Linked DNA regions of Homo sapiens. The protein of the gene in region 1 purifies or fractionates together with the protein of each later gene. This does not show direct contact. Each region holds a gene or a part of one and is shown on either strand. Other genes may lie near its edges.

Region 1 (4,223 bases):
GGCACTGTATGAGCTAACTGTGGCACTGTCTGCTTACATTTTCTCAGTCTGGCTGGGATCATTATTTCTTGATTTCACTGAGGTTTCTGTATTTCACATCCTATATCATCTCCAAAAGGAGCTTTAGGATTTGCGGAACGAGCAAGGATTTTCTGAATTATCACGTGAGACAAAACAACCATGATTCTACAAAGGAATACATTTACACAGTAGAAAATAAATACAAAAAAATGTAGAAGTAAGATTTTTGACACATGGGTCACTAGAATTTAGCTTATATACAACAAAGGCATGCACAACTAAACTCACCAACAGGCTGAAGTCAACAGTTGCTTTATATGATGTTATCAAAGATAACTTAGCCTCTTTAAAAGGTAGCTGAAAGTTCACTACCTTTTTTTGTTTTCTTTATAGGAGTCATTCTTAGTGTATTGTTTAAAACCAACCTTCTTATAAAATGAAAGATAAGAAACCAAATCAGAAATGTCTAAAAACCATGGTGTAATGTCTTGGTTTCTTCTTGTAATAATAATCATCGCCCTTAATTAGCTTATGCTTCTCCAGATGTTGCCGAGAATAAAATGAGTTGATTTTCATACATCTCACATTGTGTAAAAGGTAAAATTGGACATTTCACACTGTCAAGCATCATGCTTTGATTTTAGAAGAAAGGAATCACATTTGCTCAATAAAGTGTAAGCTTCCCCGCTTTGAAGTCCTTCTGAGAGCCATACGGCCTTTCCCATTGCAGGAATCTTCCTTCTCGTTAAACATGTGCTGTTTTCCAGTGAAATCGTGAAGGCACACATCTCCATTCTGAACACTAAAAGAGACCCCATTCCTCTCTGTAGAAGCATTTCCTGTATAAGGAAACACAAAGCGGGTGGCATGAAGTATCCACAGAAAGCATTAAAAAGCAAACAAACTTAGACATTGCTTTATTCTTAAAGATGTATTTGTAAAATATGTTTTTAAAAACATTTGTGATATATGTTCATATTTTATTTATTTTTCATTACTTCCCTAAGGCCACTCAAAGTAAGCATACCAAAGTGGAGATTGCTTCAGAAACCAGTTCTCTATGGCAGTTTTTTTTTTGTTTGGTTTTTAATGAAACAGTCAAAATCTGAAGCAAGGTAATATATTAATAAAAGGCCCACTTCCTAACTCTGGTTGGATATGTTTTGACTTCAAGTAGCAGCATATGTATAATATAAGCTAAGGTAATACTTTGGTCTCCCAAAAGGTTAATGTTAACAGAGATCCCCATATGTACCCTTAGGAAGTTCTTGGTTCCCTAGGTTCCTATAAAATGAAACTTTGTACCAGAGAAACCAGAGCAACCAGCTACAACAGTCATGGCAAGAAGAAATCATCTCTCTTGTAGATTAAACCAGCTCCTCTGACTAAATCAGGACAGGACAAATTCCCAAGAGGAAACTACCAATTCCAACTTCAGAGTCCAGGCCAGGGAGCAGCTGGGCACTCAAGGGTAACTGTTGGTTTGGACGTGGGCCTTCCCCACCCCAAGCAGGCCCTGAGTTATAGGGGAGCACAGGTGCTGGCCTCCTCTAGTTACTTGGCACCATCCTTCTGATCATTAGACCATTGGGAGACTATACACAAAGCTGAATAATAAGCCCATTTGATAGTTCATGACATGATTATGATAACAATGATCATAACAGTACTGGGACACTTTATTATCTCATTTAGAGCCCTGCAGGGTGGGTACTACTGTTATCCCCATTTTGCAGATGAGGAAACGAAGGTTTCAGAAATTAAGTGCTCTCCCCAAGGTCACACAGCTCAGAAGTAATGGAGTTGACGTGTGATGTTGCTTCCAAACTGTGATCCTTGTGGTCCTGGGTACCAAATGAGATGGCTGCTGGTACCCCACCCTCTAAGGCAGCTCAGAACTGAACTGTGTAATATTCATGCAAACTAGGTGATGAATATGGTTAACGTAGCTCCATCTGTGACACAGATCAAATAGGGCATGTGACTGTCTGAGGCAGCTGTTTGGATTTAGGCATTTCGGCTTGAGGACATTTTGGTGCAAGAACAATTTGGTCTGGCATAATAAATCATTAAACTTCTAGCTTTTTTTGTTGTTGTTGAGACGGAGTCTCGTTCTGTCGCCCATGCTGGAGTGCAGTGGTGAGATCTAGGCTCACTGCAACTTCTGTCTCCTGGGTTCAAGCGATTCTCCTGCCTCAGCTTCCTGAGTAGCTGGGACTACAGGTGTGTGCCACCACGTCTGGTTGATTTTCACATTTTTTATTAGAGATGGAGTTTTTCCATGTTGGCCAGGCTGGTCTTGAACTCCTGACCTCAGGTGATCCTCCTAACTTAGCCTCCCAAAGTGCTGGGATTACAGGTGTGAGCCACTGCGCCCAGCCCTAGCTTTCTTTTTTGAAATTGCCAATTCCATTCCTCATCTATCCCAGATGCTGGGGCAAGGACTGAGGAGTCAGGAATGGTTATCTGACATGCATATTATGTGATATTAAACACTGAGCCATTTTGGCAGCCTTAAAATGTACCCCCATCCTCACCGTCAAGCATCAAAAGTAGCTGTGTCAAATCAGCTGTGTTAAACAACTGTGGTAAAATGTGCTGTTTCCATGAAATCTGATTTCCCAAAGGATGACAACATGTTGATAGAGCTAGGCAGGTGAGGCTTCATCTCTGAGCTCTTTCGAGAATATGGACAAATCTGGTTTATGGATTCAGAGCCCCAGATGACCCTGCTCGCTCCTTTGATGTCTCTCCTTTCAATTTGCTTTCTCACACTAACGTACTAACCAGCTGTGCTCCCCGCTGCCTCGCCTCTGTTTACCTACATTGAATCATTCCTGATAGAGCTATTTGGTGTAGAGCCCAGAGCTTGCTTTCTGGTATCGACAGTAAAGAGCTAAGGCTATACAACAGTTATTTCTCATCTTTTACAGCAGTGATTCTCAACTGGGGGCAATCTTGCTCCCTTCTTCTCCCCGCTCCCCTGGGACAGTTGGCAGTGTCTGGGGACATTTTGGGTTGTCATAACTGGGGGCAGGGTGCTACTGGCTCTAGTTGATAGAGTCCAGGGATCCTGCTAAATGTCCTGCAATTCCACAAAAAAGAATTATCCAGCCCCAAAATGTCAATTGTGCTTGAAGTTGAGAAACCTTGATTTTGAGGCATCCTATGGTATTTTAAAAGCCTAGACAGGCCGGGCACAGTGGCTCACACCTGTAATCCCAGCACTTTGGGAGGCTGAGGCGGGAGGATCACTTGAGCCCAGGAGTTTGAGACCAACCTGGACAACACAGCAAGACTGCATCTTAAAAAAAAAAAAAAATTAGCCAGCCATGGTGGCATGCTCCTACAGTCCCAGCTACTCGGGTGGCTGAGGTGGGAGGATCACTTGAGCCTGGGAGGTCGAGGCTGCAGTGAACCGTGATCATACCACTGAACTCCAGCCTGGGCAATAGGAGACCTTGTCATAAAAAAAAAGAAAAAAAAAAAAAAAAGTCTAGACACACCAGCAGGACTGCCCATCTTCAGGAAACGGGAAAACTGGTAGATGTATGAACCTTCTCACAAATTTATTTGAGTTAGTCATGAAAAGAACTAACATCCTAAAACAATGAATACAGGCAAATTCTCCATGGAAGGAGAAACTATACCAGCAGAGCTTATGTTTTTATAAGAATGCAAAAGATATATTAAGAAGCAAGAGAAGGTAAAAATAGATAAGGTAAGCTTTTATGAGTAATGAACAGCCTGGTCTTATGAAAGAAAGAAAATGTAACAGAAGTTTTAGCTAGAAATGTCAGAATTAATGAGTAAAGGAGGCATGGCAGCAATAATCTGTTCAGATATTGGTCACATATATGGTCACCAATACTGGTCACAAGTCATCTTCCAGTATTTTGACATATTCATGGGGATTTGGGTGCTGTCACAAGACAGCCACATTGTGGGAAAGAATTAACAAACATGAAAAGCAAAAAATAGGAAGGTTTAAAAGTGTTGGCTGGGCGCGGTGGCTCACACCTGTAATCCCAGCACTTTGGGAGGCCGAGGTGGGCAAATCACTTGTGGTCAGGAGCTCGAGACTAGCCTGGCCAACATGGTGAAACCTGTCTCTACTAAAAATACAAAAATTAGCTGGGCATCGTGGCGGTCACCTGTAGGTCACCTGTAATTCCAGCTACTCGGGAGGCTGAGGCAGAATT
Region 2 (4,451 bases), on another chromosome or scaffold:
TTCCTTCCAGAATGAACATAAGTTAAATGAGGAAGGGAGGAAGAGAATGAAGGAAATTTTAAAAAGGAAGGAAGGTGAAAGAGAAGGTAAGAGAATTGAACAGAGATAAGGCCCTCTCCATAGCTGTGGGCCCAGTGGGTTCTTACCTCGGTAGGTGTGGCCGTGGGATGCTGCTCCAGGGTACTGTGGTGCTGGGGGTCTGGGCCGGGGTCTGAGGCTAGGACTGGGGGCTGGGAGTCTGGGTCAAGGTGCGGGGGTGGCGGTTGGGAGCTGGTTGTGAGGGGCCCAGGGGCTGGGCTGGAGTCTTGGGGCGGGGGCTCAGTGGCCTGGGGGAGCTCATCCATCCCAAAGATCTGCTCGTAGTGCACGATGAGGAACTCCACAAGCTGGGCCTGATGCCCAGAGTCCAGCAGGCAGGTGACAGGGATGGCGCTGGCTGCCCGCGGGCCGTCCGGCGGCCGCAGCAGTGTCGGCCCAAACACAATGCCCAGGTTGTTGGCAGACATCTTGTTTTCCATAAATCGTGCAGCCACCCTGGGGATGGTGTGAAGAGAAAGGTCAGGGTACAGGATGCAAGCTCATTGGTCTGAGGGTAAGGGTGGGACACGCAGGCCAGCCTAGAGGTGACTTGCCCATGTCACAGGTGTAAGTCGTCTGAGACCAGCAGCCACATATCCAGAACTGGAGGTCAGGGGTCAGTACCCAAAGTTATGAATCATGGATTAAGGTTCAGAGTTCAGAAAACACAGGTCAAAGGTCAGAGGTCAGTGTCAGGGGTCAGCCAGGGAAGTTAGTAGTCGCATGTCCAGGGAAAAGGGTCGCGTTTCAAGGCTCAGGGACCCATGCACACCTGAACAGATGGGCCACCAGGTGCCGCAGGGTGTTGTAGTTAGAGTCAGGCAGCTGTACCAAGAGGGTCTTCAGCGAGCGGATAACCTCAGGGCTGGGGCTGGGGGTCCCAGGGTCGTCCCCAGGGTCTGCATGCAAGGTCTTAGCCAGAGAGATGAAGGCGTCGTAGAGGTGGAAGGGGATCACGGGCTCGGTGAGCTGGGGGTGGAACGGAGGGCGCAACACGAGTGTGGGTGGGCTGTGGAGGGCTCCTGCCCGCGTCCCCCTCAGTGTCCTGAGCACCAACCTCCTGAAGAAATCGCTTGAGGACACTCGAGACGTCATGAGGCGAGTTCCCCGACAGCTCCACCAACGCTCGGCCATTCTCGAAAGCCTGGCACAGCCGCTCCACACGGACCCGGGACCCGCTGACCCGGTAAATGCCCTGCAGGGTGAGGGTGAAAAACAGACACCTGGTTCGTGATAGGCCATCGATTCGGTCAGGTCACTTCTGGGGATGATGAAGGGTCAGGGCAGCACCTGCACATCCAGGGCACGGTGTTCTATCTCAGCCGTGCACTTCGTGACCACAAAGGGTACCTCCTCCGGGAAGTCCCTGGGTAGCTGCAGGAAGTCAACCCCAAAAAGGGGTGTCCGGGCTGGGAGCCGCCTGTGTCCACAGAGGATCAGGAGAGTCTCCAGGCAGCGCTTGTGGCAGGTCAGAAAGCACTGTGGGGAAGGTCACAGGGACAGGGAGGTCATTAGGGACCAGTAGGGGAAGAGAAGGTTACAAGGATCCTCAAGGAATGGGGGCTCATGGGAGACATCAGGTTAGGGTGGGTCCCAGGGGCAGAAAGGCTGTAGGAATCTCAGGTCAGGGAGATGATCAAGGGTCAGCAAAGGTCATTTGGTCATTAACCCAGGCCACACCTCCTCACACTCCGTCCCGCTGACCATGAAGGCTTCGCACTCGCGGCACTTGGCTGGGCCCCGCAGTCGCCGCAGCTGGTGGGTCTGAGCCGCGCTGGACAGTGTCCACTTCCCGAAGGGGCTGCCCAGCCCATTCTCCAGCCCGTCTCCCAGGTCTGCAGGGAGACAGGGTCAGGAGTGCCTGGTGCCCTGCCCTGTCCCATCCTGACCTACCCTGCTTCAGCCTCACCAGGGTCTCGCTCCTCAAAGTCATCTGAGGACTCAGTGCCTGTGGACGAAGCCTTCACCAGCTGCCTCGTGCCAGCGCCTGGGGTCAGAGGAATCATGGGAGATTCCTGGGCTATGGGAGGCACTCCTGGTTTTTAGGGCTTCCAGAACCACCCACTAATTCCCAAGGGGTCAGAGGTCAGGAGGGGGATTGGACAGGTCAGTGGTTAAGGGTTGGAGAATTGGGTCAGCAACCTGAGGGGGGTGGTTCATAAGCTGGATCAAGAGGTTGAGGAAATAGGCCGGGCGCAGTGGCTCACACCTGTAATCCCAGCACTTTGGGAAGCTGAGGCAGGAGGATCACATGAGGCAAGGAGTTTGACACCAGCCTGGCCAACATGGCAAAACCTTGTCTCTACTAAAAATACAAACATTAACCAGGCATGGTGGCAGGCACCTGTAGTCCCAGCTACTCGGGAGGCTGAGGCACGAGAATCGCTTGAACCTGGGAGGCGGAGGTTGCAGTGAGCCAAGATCGTACCACTGCGCTCCAGCCTGGGCAACAGAGCAAGACTCTGTCTCAAAAAAAAAAAAAAGAAAGAAAGAAAAGAAAAGAAAAGGCCGGGCGTGGTGGCACACACCTGTAATCCCTGCACTTTGGGAGACCGAGGCAGGTGGATCACCTGAGGTCAGGAGTTCGAGATCAGCCTGGCCAACATGGTGAAACCCCGTCTCTACTAAAAAATACAAAAATCAGCCGGCGTGGTAGTGCACACCTGTAATCCCAGCTACTCCAGAGGCTGAGACAGGAGAATCGCTTGAATCTGGGAGGTGGAGGTTGCAGTGAGCCGAGATCACGCCACTGCACTCCAGGCTGGGCGACAGAATGAGACTGTCTCAAATAAACAAACAAATAAATAAATAAATAATTTTTAAAAAGGTAAAAAAAGAGGTTGAGGAAATAGGTCAGGGGTGTGGGGTAGGTCAGAGGTCAAAGATAGTTAAAGATTGAGGGTCAGAGCTTGGCCAGGGGCTGGAGGATGGTCACAGGTGGAGTGTGGGTCAGGACCAGGTCCTATCCCTACCTGGGCTGGAAGTGGGTGAGTCCAGGGACCGAGACTCGCTGCCGCCACCCACGCTGTCCACATCGCTGCCCGGAGTGGGGCCTGGAGTCCCTAGGTGGCACAGGTCAATAAGGATGGTCCCCTGCTCACAAACCCCACTCCTGCAGCCCACCTATGTGTTGGTGGAACGAACTCCTGGCACCACTCCCACCTGGCCCTCATTGCACTCACCTTGCCAGCGCCAGCCTGTGCCCGGATCCTCCCAAGGGCCTGGCTCAGCTGAATTCTCATCCAGCCTTGGAGGAAGAGGCCCAGAGAGCTTCTTTCTGATGTCCAGAGGGGAGCTGAGAAGACAGAAGTTTGAAGGTTTGAATCCCAGGAAACTGGCCTGGGGTGATGGCACCCAGGCATCATGTCTAGGTACCAACTCCAAGCACTTGGGTCTGCAAACCCTGACACCCAGGGCATTGTGGCCCCTGAAATACAGTAGCCCCACATTCCTGCCCCTGCCCCTAGGACTGGGACAACCCATTCACCCTCCTATGGCCCCCGAGAGCCTGGAGTACTAAATTCCACTAAGGCTTTGCGTTCTCTAACCTCGAGTAACCAGCCTGCGGTGCCAACAGCCTGGCATCGCGATTCCGGGGCTCGTTCCCGACTCCCTGCTCCAGTGACCCACCTGTTCAAGGAGGGAAGGAACTCCTGGAAGGAGAAGGCGGGCGGCGGGGGCGGCGGGGCCTCGGGCCGCAGCGCCCGTACAAACTCCTGGTAGCGCTGGCCCGGCTCAAAGGGCGCACAGCACTCGGCCAGGGCGGCGAAGGCGCGGGGGCCACGCTCTGCCTGCGCCCCCCGCAGCCCGAAGAGACTCAGCGTCACCTGCCGGGTGGAGACAGCAGGTTGGGGAGGGGCGGAGCCTGGGAGCCTGGGGGCAGGGCCAGAGCTGGGGCGGGGCTTGAGAGACGCGAACGTGGTCAGGGTTTGGGACGCACCTGGGCGGCTTAGGAACTAGGGCAGTCGGCCAGGGGACCCAGGCATGGTCAGAGCAGGGGCTGGTCATCCAGGGGACAGGACCTCATGGGGCGGAGCCGAGACAGTGGGTCTGGGGGCGGGAACTGGCTGTCGAGGGAAATGGCCTAGTCCTGGTGTCTCCAGGGTGGCTTAGGGGCGAGGAGTGGGGCACTCAGTCGGGGCCCCAACGGGGTGAGGGGAGGATGGCCTTGGGGATGGGCCTCACCCGCCTCAGCACTTCATCCCCCTGAAACACCAGCTTGCGCACGTGCGACACGATTCGCTGCTTGGCGATCTCCAGGTCCTGCTGCCGCGCGTTGGCCTCGCGGACACAGGCCTGGTACAGCGCCTCGGCCTCCTGCGCCTGGGGAAACGGGAGGCCAGGAGCGGGGTGGGGCGCGTGTGGGCGAGAGT
Region 3 (4,451 bases), on another chromosome or scaffold:
ACAACCAGTCTGACTAGAATTTACCAGGCTGGAATTTCCCAATCCTAGTAAGTCTGAGGGCACTGTAGGAGACCAGGGTGTATTTTAGTCCTATCTCAACCGCATAAGACAGACACTCCCAGAGCGGCCATTCATAGACCTCTCTCCCAGAATGCATTCCTTCCCCAGGGTTATTCCTTGCTGGAAAAAGAATTCAGCAGTATTTCTCCTACTCGCTTTCTGCAAGAAGAAGAGTATGACTCTATTCTGCCCAACCCCGCAAGCAGTCAGACCTTATGGTTATCTTTCCGTGTTCCCTGAAAATTGCTGTTATTCTGTTCTTTTTCAGGGTGCACTAATTTCATATTGTTCAAACACACATGTTTTTCAAACAATTTGTACAGTTAACGCAATCATCACAGGGTACTGAGGTGACATACATCCTCAGTTTACAAAGATGACGGGATTAAGAGATTAAAGTAAGACAGTCATAAGAAATTTAAAAAGTATTAATTTGGGGAACTAATAAATGTCCATGAAATCTTCACAATTTATGTTCAGAGATTGCAGTAAAGACAGGTGTAAGAAATTATAAAAGTATTAATTTTGGGAACTAATAAATGTCCATGAAACAATTTATGTTCTTCTGCTGCGGCTTCAGCCAGTCCCTCCATTCGGGGTCCCTGACTTCCCGCAACACAAGGCTGGTGTTGTTTTTATCTTAAGCTTTGGATTCAGAAGATCACCACCCTAGACTCGACATTTCCTAGTTAGTTCTCCTAATTAGTAATAAGATCAGTGGTTATAGTCTACATTTGGGTCATTTCTAGGATATTCTCCATTAAACTTTCCCAGGGAGTTTATTGTCTGAAAGAGCCTGGGATTCTGGAGATTTTCTTCTGCCCAATACTTTAAGACCTCCCGAGGAAGGTTCCAGAACTGATCCAGGATCTGCAGAGTGTTGAAGAACCCCTTTAAACATTAACCATTATGTACGAATCTGTCAGTTTTTTGTCAGTATGCATCAGGAATTCTAAGTGCTACCTATGACCCTGTCACTTCATCTTCTTGTCCTCAAAATTCTTCATCCACAGGAGGATGCTGGTAATAGTGACTCAAGATTCAGAAGTGCCACCTATATTGATCTTTTTCTTTAGCTCCAGGCAAGTTGCTGTTGTGGCCCTACTTCCAATGACTTGAGAATTTCCTCAAAATAAGTTTTCTGACTTGTAACCAGAAGGAGGTTATCAGTTCAGTTTTTAAACAAGGAAATAACTTCTAGTCTCTGTTTGGCTTTTAACAGATACGTCAGTATGTTGTACAGGTGATCTTCTCCGTGACGTTTGCATTTTCTTGCACCATGTTTGAGCTCATCATCTTTGAAATCTTAGGAGTATTGAATAGCAGGTGAGTAAGAGTACTGAAAACTCCTCTTGAAGAGTTCTGTGCTACATTCTTTACAGTGGAAAAGCTATTGGATCTCATAACTGAAAAAAAAAACACTGTGTTAATAGTTCAGTTTCAGTAACTGCAATGATCACAACAGATATGGGTCACAGCCACCTAATAGCTGGTTTGATAAAGATTATGAGATACCAGGAAACAAAAGATCTGACCGTTAACTCTGAAGAACTCATTGGAGTGAGGCTGTGAAGCTGCAGTCTAGGCTTCACTCCTAGAAGCTTTATTTTTCCAGGACTGCTCGCTGACTGAATCCCAGTAACAGCCCTTCACATTGTTCTGCTGATTGAAAATCTCTACCTGAAAAGATTAGAATTCCTCAGAGCTACTTTAATGATCTCTCTGAAGACTGAAACTCCAGTTCTTACTTAACTTAGTTATTTTTATTGATTTTACAGTCATGGTCAAGTTTGGTTGAATTTAAAGTGTTTCTTAAAACACTTTTTAAAAATAACTCTTTACTCCCCTCCAAATAATAGACTTGTTAGTTTATTAGACAGTCTATTCAAAATATTTCTTGCTTGTTAATCTGCAAGCTTGAGTATGTTTTTAGGCCAGCATTTATATGTAGGGTTCATCAACTATGCTATGCAGACTTTGTTGTGCTTTTTTATCACCACCTGGAAAAACCTTTTAGGAGTAAAGCAGTCTTTCACTCTAAAGTTAGGATTCAGTGCCAAGGTAAGTTCATTATAGACCCCTGGCACTTGAGACTTGTAGAGAGACTATACTCTCAAATCCTTTGATAATCAGAGTTGAAAACGAAATTTAAATTAAAAAGAAAAACTTACTATACAGATGGTTAATCACAAAACATTGAAAGGTTAAAAAAAAAAAAAGAAGAGAGAGGGGCCAGACATAGTGGCTCACGCCTATAATCCTAGCACTTTGGGAGGCTGAGGCAGGAGGATCACTTAAGTGCAGGGGTTCAAGACGAGCCTGGGCAACAAAGTGAGACCCTGTCTCTACAAAAAAATAAAAAAAATTAGCAGAGTGTGGTAGTACACGTCTGTAGTGCCAGCTACCCTGGAGGCTGAAGCAGGAGGATCCCTTGAGCCCAGGAGTTTGAGGATATGCAGTGAGCTGTGATCACTGGACAAGACAATGAGACCCCATCTCTTAAAAAAAAGAGTGAGAGAGAGAGAATCAGAGTTGATAATAATGGTCTCTTGATAGAACAATGAATAACATGTATTATGGTAAAATAGAAGTGTTTTCTGATTCTCCTGCTTTTAAACTTTAATAATCCAAACCTTGGCCGGGCACGGTGGCTCACGCCTGTAATCCCAGCACTTTGGGAGGCCAAGGCAGGCGGATCACGAGGTCAGGAGATCAAGACCATCCTGGCTAACATGGTGAAACCCCGTCTCTACTAAAAATACAAAAAATTAGCTGGGCGTGGTGGTGGGCGCCTGTAGTCCCAGCTACTTGGGGGGCTGAGGCAGGAGAATGGCCTGAACCCAGGAGGCAGAGCTTGCAGTGAGCCGAGATTGTGCCACTGCACTCCAGCCTGGGCGACAGAGCAAGACTCCATCTCAAAAAAATAAATAAATAAAAAATAATCCAAACCTTTTCTTGGATGAGCTAGATATAGATCCTGTGACTATAGAGAATAGACAGGTATTATTTTACATAATGGTTATTAAATTTTATTATCACAACCTGCATCTTTCACTGCTATTTAAGCAGGGGTTGGCAGGCTTTCTTCTGTAAAGGGCCAGATAATAAATATTTTAGGTTTCTGTGGACCAGAAGGTTTCTATCACAAGTACTCAGCTCTGCTGTTGTAGAGAGAAAACAGTCATAGGCAATATATAAACAAACGAGCATGGCCATGCTCCAATAAACTTAATTTGTAAAAGCAGGTGGCTGTGAGGCCATAGTTTGCCAGCTACTCATCTAAATATTGATACAGAGGATTCAGATATTCTAAAGCTATATTTACTGTTTTTGGTAGATGATGTCCCCCAACTTTTAACTTATAGTTAATAACCCGTATAGTAAGAAACATCTGTCATACTATGGTGTATGTTTCCTAAATTTCTTAATTAGTTAAAGAGGATAAGAAGTAGCATTGCTAAAATCTGGTTTTTCTTTGTGTGCTATATAGAGGATTGGGTCTGAGACATATCTTCAGTTATACCTGTTTTTTCATGCTAATGTTTCACCCAATTATGGAACACAAATATGAACCTTGATGATGTATAACTGTCCATTGACTGGACTCAGAATCGTTTTGAAAAGAGAATCTTGGCCAGAATATTCCTTTGACTCACCTTTGAGCAGAGATCATATGACTTCCTATTCAAATATGTAATCTTGTTGGGATGCTTAGTTTTTTCAAGAGAATATCACTTTACTCTCAGCTCAAAAGACTAGTTAAAACATGTGGTTCACTTTTAATAGGCAGTCCATACTGCCAATTAAAGTTGCACTTGTTATTTCAAACCCACTGCTTCCCAAAATCTTTCAGAAGCTTAGCTGAAATACTATGTAGTATTGCCTGGAGGATGTCCAGCTTGTTTCTTTCTCTAAATGTTCTAAAGTAGTTGTTAACCTAGAGGAGCAAAAAGCTGTCAATGTATCTAGTCTAAATGGTATTCACTCCCTGTAGGGTAGCTTTTACTGAATGGCTCTTTGTTTCGTGATGCCTGCCATCTGTACTAAGGAAGGAACAATAAGAAACAGCCCTCTGAAACATATTTCTCTTGAAAGGATGTTGTTGATGACACTGTTAATTGCCTTTGCATTTTCTTTATGAAATCTTTGAAGAAATTTCATTGTAATCTTGTTAATAATTCAGTAACAATAAATGATAATTATGCTTCCTTTGAGGAATTAATTTTTATTTTCTTACAGACATGATGATTTTATCTAACTGATCAAATTTTTTATTTCACATTGACCATTAGAAAACTTAAAGCTAAATTTATGACCTACCCATAGCAACTTTCTAGAATTCTGTTTTATAATAGCCATCAGGCTTGGCCCAATATTTTACCTGTTACCAT
Region 4 (4,451 bases), on another chromosome or scaffold:
TTGTAGCACAACTAGAACTTACGTGACTGACTTGTGAATATTGTTGCCAAGGATCTCTATTAAATAATTTCAATCATTCAATGATTTTTAATTATAAAATATGTGAAGGCTCAGCTTCTGGTACAGATGAGTAGTAGCTCCGAGAGAAATTCTCCTGCTGGTGACAAATAAAACTATCTTGTGACCAAGAGTAAGCAGACACTGGAAGGATGTCAGAATTTTGTAGAAGGGAATGGCACTACACGAGTTTCCCATTTTAAAAAAGGCTTTTGGGGCCGGGCGCGGTGGCTCACGCCTGTAATCCCAGCACTTTGGGAGGCCAAGGCGGGCAGATCCTGAGGTCAGGAGATCGAGACCATCCTGGCTAACACAGTGAAACCCTGTCTCTACTAAAAATACGAAAAAATTAGCCGGGTGTGGTGGCGGGTGCCTGTAGTCCCAGCTACTCAGGAGACTGAGGCAGGAGAATGGCGCAAACCCGGGAGGCGGAGCTTGCAGTGAGCTGAGATCGCGCCACTGCACTCCGGCCTGGGCGACAGAGCAAGATTCCGTCTCAAAAAAAAAAAAAAAAAAAAAAAAAAAAAGGCTTTTGGCCTGAGAGCAGGCCGTATTCTACACCTCGTGGAAATGCTAAAACTCAGAGTAACCCTGTGGTCTTAGTGGCCTGAAGAACCAGAGGGCAGAGGCAACCACAGCCATTGGAAAGTGAAGGGAGAAATCCCATAAAGGAGAGAGCCAGAGAGAGAGAATGCTAAATTCTGTGTACAAACTCTTCCCAAATATCTGGCTGATAGCTGAACCACACAAGTGCAGAGAATACTCAAGCATCCCAGGCAAGAACTGAATTAAGATTTGGGCTGCCATACCTCAAAAAGGGATGAGTACAGCTAAGTTAAATATGTAGTTATTAAAAATTCTTCAGAGGAGTATACCAGAATCTACAGTAAAGATGCTCATAATGAATAGAAAGATAAGAACTCTCAGGAGAGACACTATAAAAAGGAATAAAAATAAATTCTAAAACTGAAAAATATATCTGAAGTAAAAATGCACTGGATGAGATTAACAGCAGAATGGAGATGACAGAAATAAAAAAGTCAGTGAATTTAAATATATAGACTAATACAAATTATCCAACCTGAAGAATAGAGAGAAAAATGATTGAAAAAAGTGAGCAGAGCCTCACAAACCTGTGGGACAATATCAAAAAGTCAAACATAAAAGTAATCAGAGCCTCTGAAGAAGTGGGGAGAGAGAATGGGGCTGAAAAAATATTTGAAGAAATAATGGCCAAGAGTTCTCCAAATCTTCTCAAAGACTTAAATTTATATATCCAAGAAGCTCTATGAAACCTAAGCAGAACAAATACAAAGGAGATCTCACCTTAGCACATCATTTCGAAACTGCTAGGAACCAAAGATAGAGTTAAAATCTTGAAAACAGTGAGAGAAAAGGATGATATATTATACATAGGGGAATAACGATTTGAAATAATGGATACTTCTCATCAGAGTCCAGGGTGCTCACCATTACACCATGGAACCTCACAATGAATATTTCTCATCAGAAACAACAGACTCCATAAGACAGCAGAACTTTATCTTTGAAATGCTAAACAAAAACATTTTTCAGCCTAGAGTTCTATATTCAATGAGCATAGACTTTAAGAATTAAGATGAATTAAATATATTTTCAGATAAAAGAAAACTAAGATAACTTGTTGCCAGCAGCCAGTAGATTTGCACCACAAGAAATTGTAAACAAAGTTCTTCCAGTGAAAGAGAAATGATGCCAGATGGAAACTCAAATCATCAGGAAGGAAAGAAAAGCATCATAAGTGGTAAATACATGTATAAATCACACAATATGAGGAAGATTCCAAATTTCCAAAGGATTGCAAAGAAGAATTGGCAGAGTGATAAGCACACTGGTGACCATCAAGATATTACAGCATAACTTAGCATTACAAGAAAATACACAAATATTCCAACATAATATAGGACTTCTTTCACCCAAGCCCACCACTTCCACAATTAAAATTAATGCAATTTGATTCATACTTACAATCATTGGTGCTTCAGGATTTTGAGCTATAATTGTAGTGATCACTAATATGTCATTTCTAAGCTGACGGTCATAATGACTGAAACCTCTCATAAACAGATTTTTAAATACTTCCTTCAAAGCCCTAGAAAGTAAAATCATATTTTAAAAACTATATTGTTATACACTAAATGTTTGCGTCCCTCCAAAATTCATATATTTAAATCCTAACCCCCAATGTGATGGTTTTAGGAGTGAGGCCTTAGGGAGGTAATGAGCCCTCATGAATGGAATTAGTGCCCTTATAAAAGGGACTCCAGAGAGCTGTCTTGCTCTCTTTCCTCCATGTAAGAATACAAGAGATCAGCAGTATGCAACCCAGAAGAGCACCCTCATCAGAACCCAACCACACTGGCACCCTGATATCAGAATTCTAGCCTCCCAAACTGAAAAATAACTTTCTGTTGTTTATAAACCACCCAGTTTACGGTACTTTATTATAGCAGCTCAAACTAAAACACACACTTTTATGAAAATACTTCCTGAATGTCTATCAACAAAATCTCCCTTTTTATATTATACTATTCATTTGAACATATTTCTAATATTTTTTACACTTCCAAATCTGCCTCTAATCCTCTATGTACCAGATAAGAATCCACTAAACCAGTCTATTACACATGGTGGTCAAAGTGACAGCTCTATAACACATTCAATCATGTCATTTTCCTTTGTAAAACCATTTAAAGACTATTCTTTGTTCTTAGGATTAAGTCCTACCTCCTTAACAAGGCTTATTAGACCTTTCATGTTATGGTCCCTGATAACATTGTTAGCCTCATCTCTCACCATTGTAGCCTGTTCCTTCTGCTCTCATCATACTGAATTTTAGTTTTCTGATTTTGCTAATTATATTTTCACTTGTTTTCCCTGTCTAGGATGCTCTCCGCATGCAAAACTTTTCTGTTACCAAGTCCTGTTTGTCATTCAGTTACTAGACTTGAGTTCATTAGGAAGCAGTTATTAATTCTCCAACTCTGAGTTAGGTTCCCTTGTATTAATAGTAGATATTTGTTGCTTTGCCTCCTGGGACCTACTTGCCCTTTTTATAAGAACAGCATTCTTATTTTTATTTAGGCATTTACTCCTTCCTGACTTTTGCTCCTGTGAGGCTGCCTTCAGCTGCCTTTTCGCCAGTCAGAGCATTTTTTCTTTTGGCACTAATAAATCACTGTGGAACAGGCATTTGACCAATATTAGACCATTCAGGGCCAAACTGGACTCAATTCAAAGACTTTTCTCTGAGCCTTCAGGATAGCAAGGTTTCTCTTCTGCTTGATTTGAGGTTGAAATGATGTGATCGTAGACTTCTTAGGTCTTACTACATAGGCTTGGGTGTGAAGCCAGCACCATGGAAGACAATGTAGAGAGAGGAGGGACGAAGTCCTAGTATCTGCTGATCCCTGAATAAAGCTGCACATGAAACCAGTTTTATCCTTGACTTTGTAGTTAAATAAGCCATAAATTTTCTATATTGCTTTGGTCATTTGGGTTTTTAGTCACTTGCAAACAAAAATGTGCTGACTGATCTTCTTCTGAAGAACATGTAGCATCTTACAATAATCTGTTTCATAACATTTAGTATGTTCTCTTTTAGTTGTCTATTTACTTGTCCATCCCTCCTAGCACAATGTAAATTCCACGAAAGCAGAGACAATATCTATATTGTTTTCAGTGGTATTTCTATGGCTTAATACTGAAGCTGGCATAGAGCAGACAATTATTTGTTGAATAAGTGAAGAAGCAACTTGAAGGCTTACGCACATTTTGTTGCTAATGCTTACTGCAATATCTGGGAGATAGTAAGCACTCAATAATAGATTCACTGGATAAATAAATGAAATAGTTCTTCTAAAGTCTAATTTTACTTTATCTATATTCCAAGTTATATTTTAGTGTTAAGAAGCTACTTCAAGAGCCTTCCACATAGAAAAGTGTGGCTTGTTATTGTGCAGATTCATTTATACCATGGAACAAAAAAGATGTCCTGAAACATAGCCATTACATGAATCTAAAACATAATTGAACACAGATTCAAACAAAGATGTTAGTTATGTCACTGGCTGTCATTTTAAGATTAAAAGAACATTCCTATCTAACCACATACGCTTACAGCAAACATTCCAAGTTACTAAGCTGTTGTATGACTTCTTCTTTTGAAGATTTTTCCAGCAAGTTCCAAAGTATTTCTGATGAACGAAATAAAAGCTGTCCAGAGGGATCTGGGTCATTGAGGTGAGTACAGATTCCACTGGCTGCTTGTGCTTTCATCATTATAGTACAATTAACTTCTGAAAATAAATTTTAAAAATTATTTGTGCTTTACAATATTGACATTTTTAGACATA

The links. The genes of interacting proteins can lie anywhere in the genome.
Region 2: the proteins of ADGRG2 (region 1) and GMIP purify together in Homo sapiens (affinity purification with mass spectrometry; one large-scale study listed by BioGRID and IntAct). This does not show direct contact.
Region 3: the proteins of ADGRG2 (region 1) and GPR89A purify together in Homo sapiens (affinity purification with mass spectrometry, with the first as the bait; one large-scale study listed by BioGRID). This does not show direct contact.
Region 4: the proteins of ADGRG2 (region 1) and CFAP69 purify together in Homo sapiens (affinity purification with mass spectrometry; one large-scale study listed by BioGRID and IntAct). This does not show direct contact.

The regions. Positions count from the first base shown.
Region 1 is NC_000023.11:18,990,189-18,994,411, forward strand, and holds part of ADGRG2 (adhesion G-protein coupled receptor G2 isoform 1 precursor), read right to left. Parts: intron 861-4,223; coding exon 676-860; 3' UTR 1-675. UniProt on the Homo sapiens protein: Adhesion G-protein coupled receptor (aGPCR) for steroid hormones, such as dehydroepiandrosterone (DHEA; also named 3beta-hydroxyandrost-5-en-17-one) and androstenedione.
Region 2 is NC_000019.10:19,633,657-19,638,107, forward strand, and holds part of GMIP (GEM-interacting protein), read right to left. Parts: intron 4,402-4,451; coding exon 4,264-4,401; intron 3,906-4,263; coding exon 3,709-3,905; intron 3,374-3,708; coding exon 3,261-3,373; intron 3,141-3,260; coding exon 3,051-3,140; intron 2,066-3,050; coding exon 1,988-2,065; intron 1,914-1,987; coding exon 1,759-1,913; intron 1,558-1,758; coding exon 1,369-1,557; intron 1,274-1,368; coding exon 1,136-1,273; intron 1,048-1,135; coding exon 851-1,047; intron 535-850; coding exon 147-534; intron 1-146. UniProt on the Homo sapiens protein: Stimulates, in vitro and in vivo, the GTPase activity of RhoA.
Region 3 is NC_000001.11:145,617,038-145,621,488, forward strand, and holds part of GPR89A (Golgi pH regulator A), read left to right. Parts: intron 1-1,282; coding exon 1,283-1,386; intron 1,387-4,451. UniProt on the Homo sapiens protein: Voltage-gated channel that enables the transfer of anions such as iodide, chloride, bromide and fluoride which may function in counter-ion conductance and participates in Golgi acidification.
Region 4 is NC_000007.14:90,271,724-90,276,174, reverse strand, and holds part of CFAP69 (cilia- and flagella-associated protein 69), read right to left. Parts: intron 4,395-4,451; coding exon 4,217-4,394; intron 2,189-4,216; coding exon 2,065-2,188; intron 1-2,064. UniProt on the Homo sapiens protein: Cilium- and flagellum-associated protein. In the olfactory epithelium, regulates the speed of activation and termination of the odor response and thus contributes to the robustness of olfactory transduction pathways.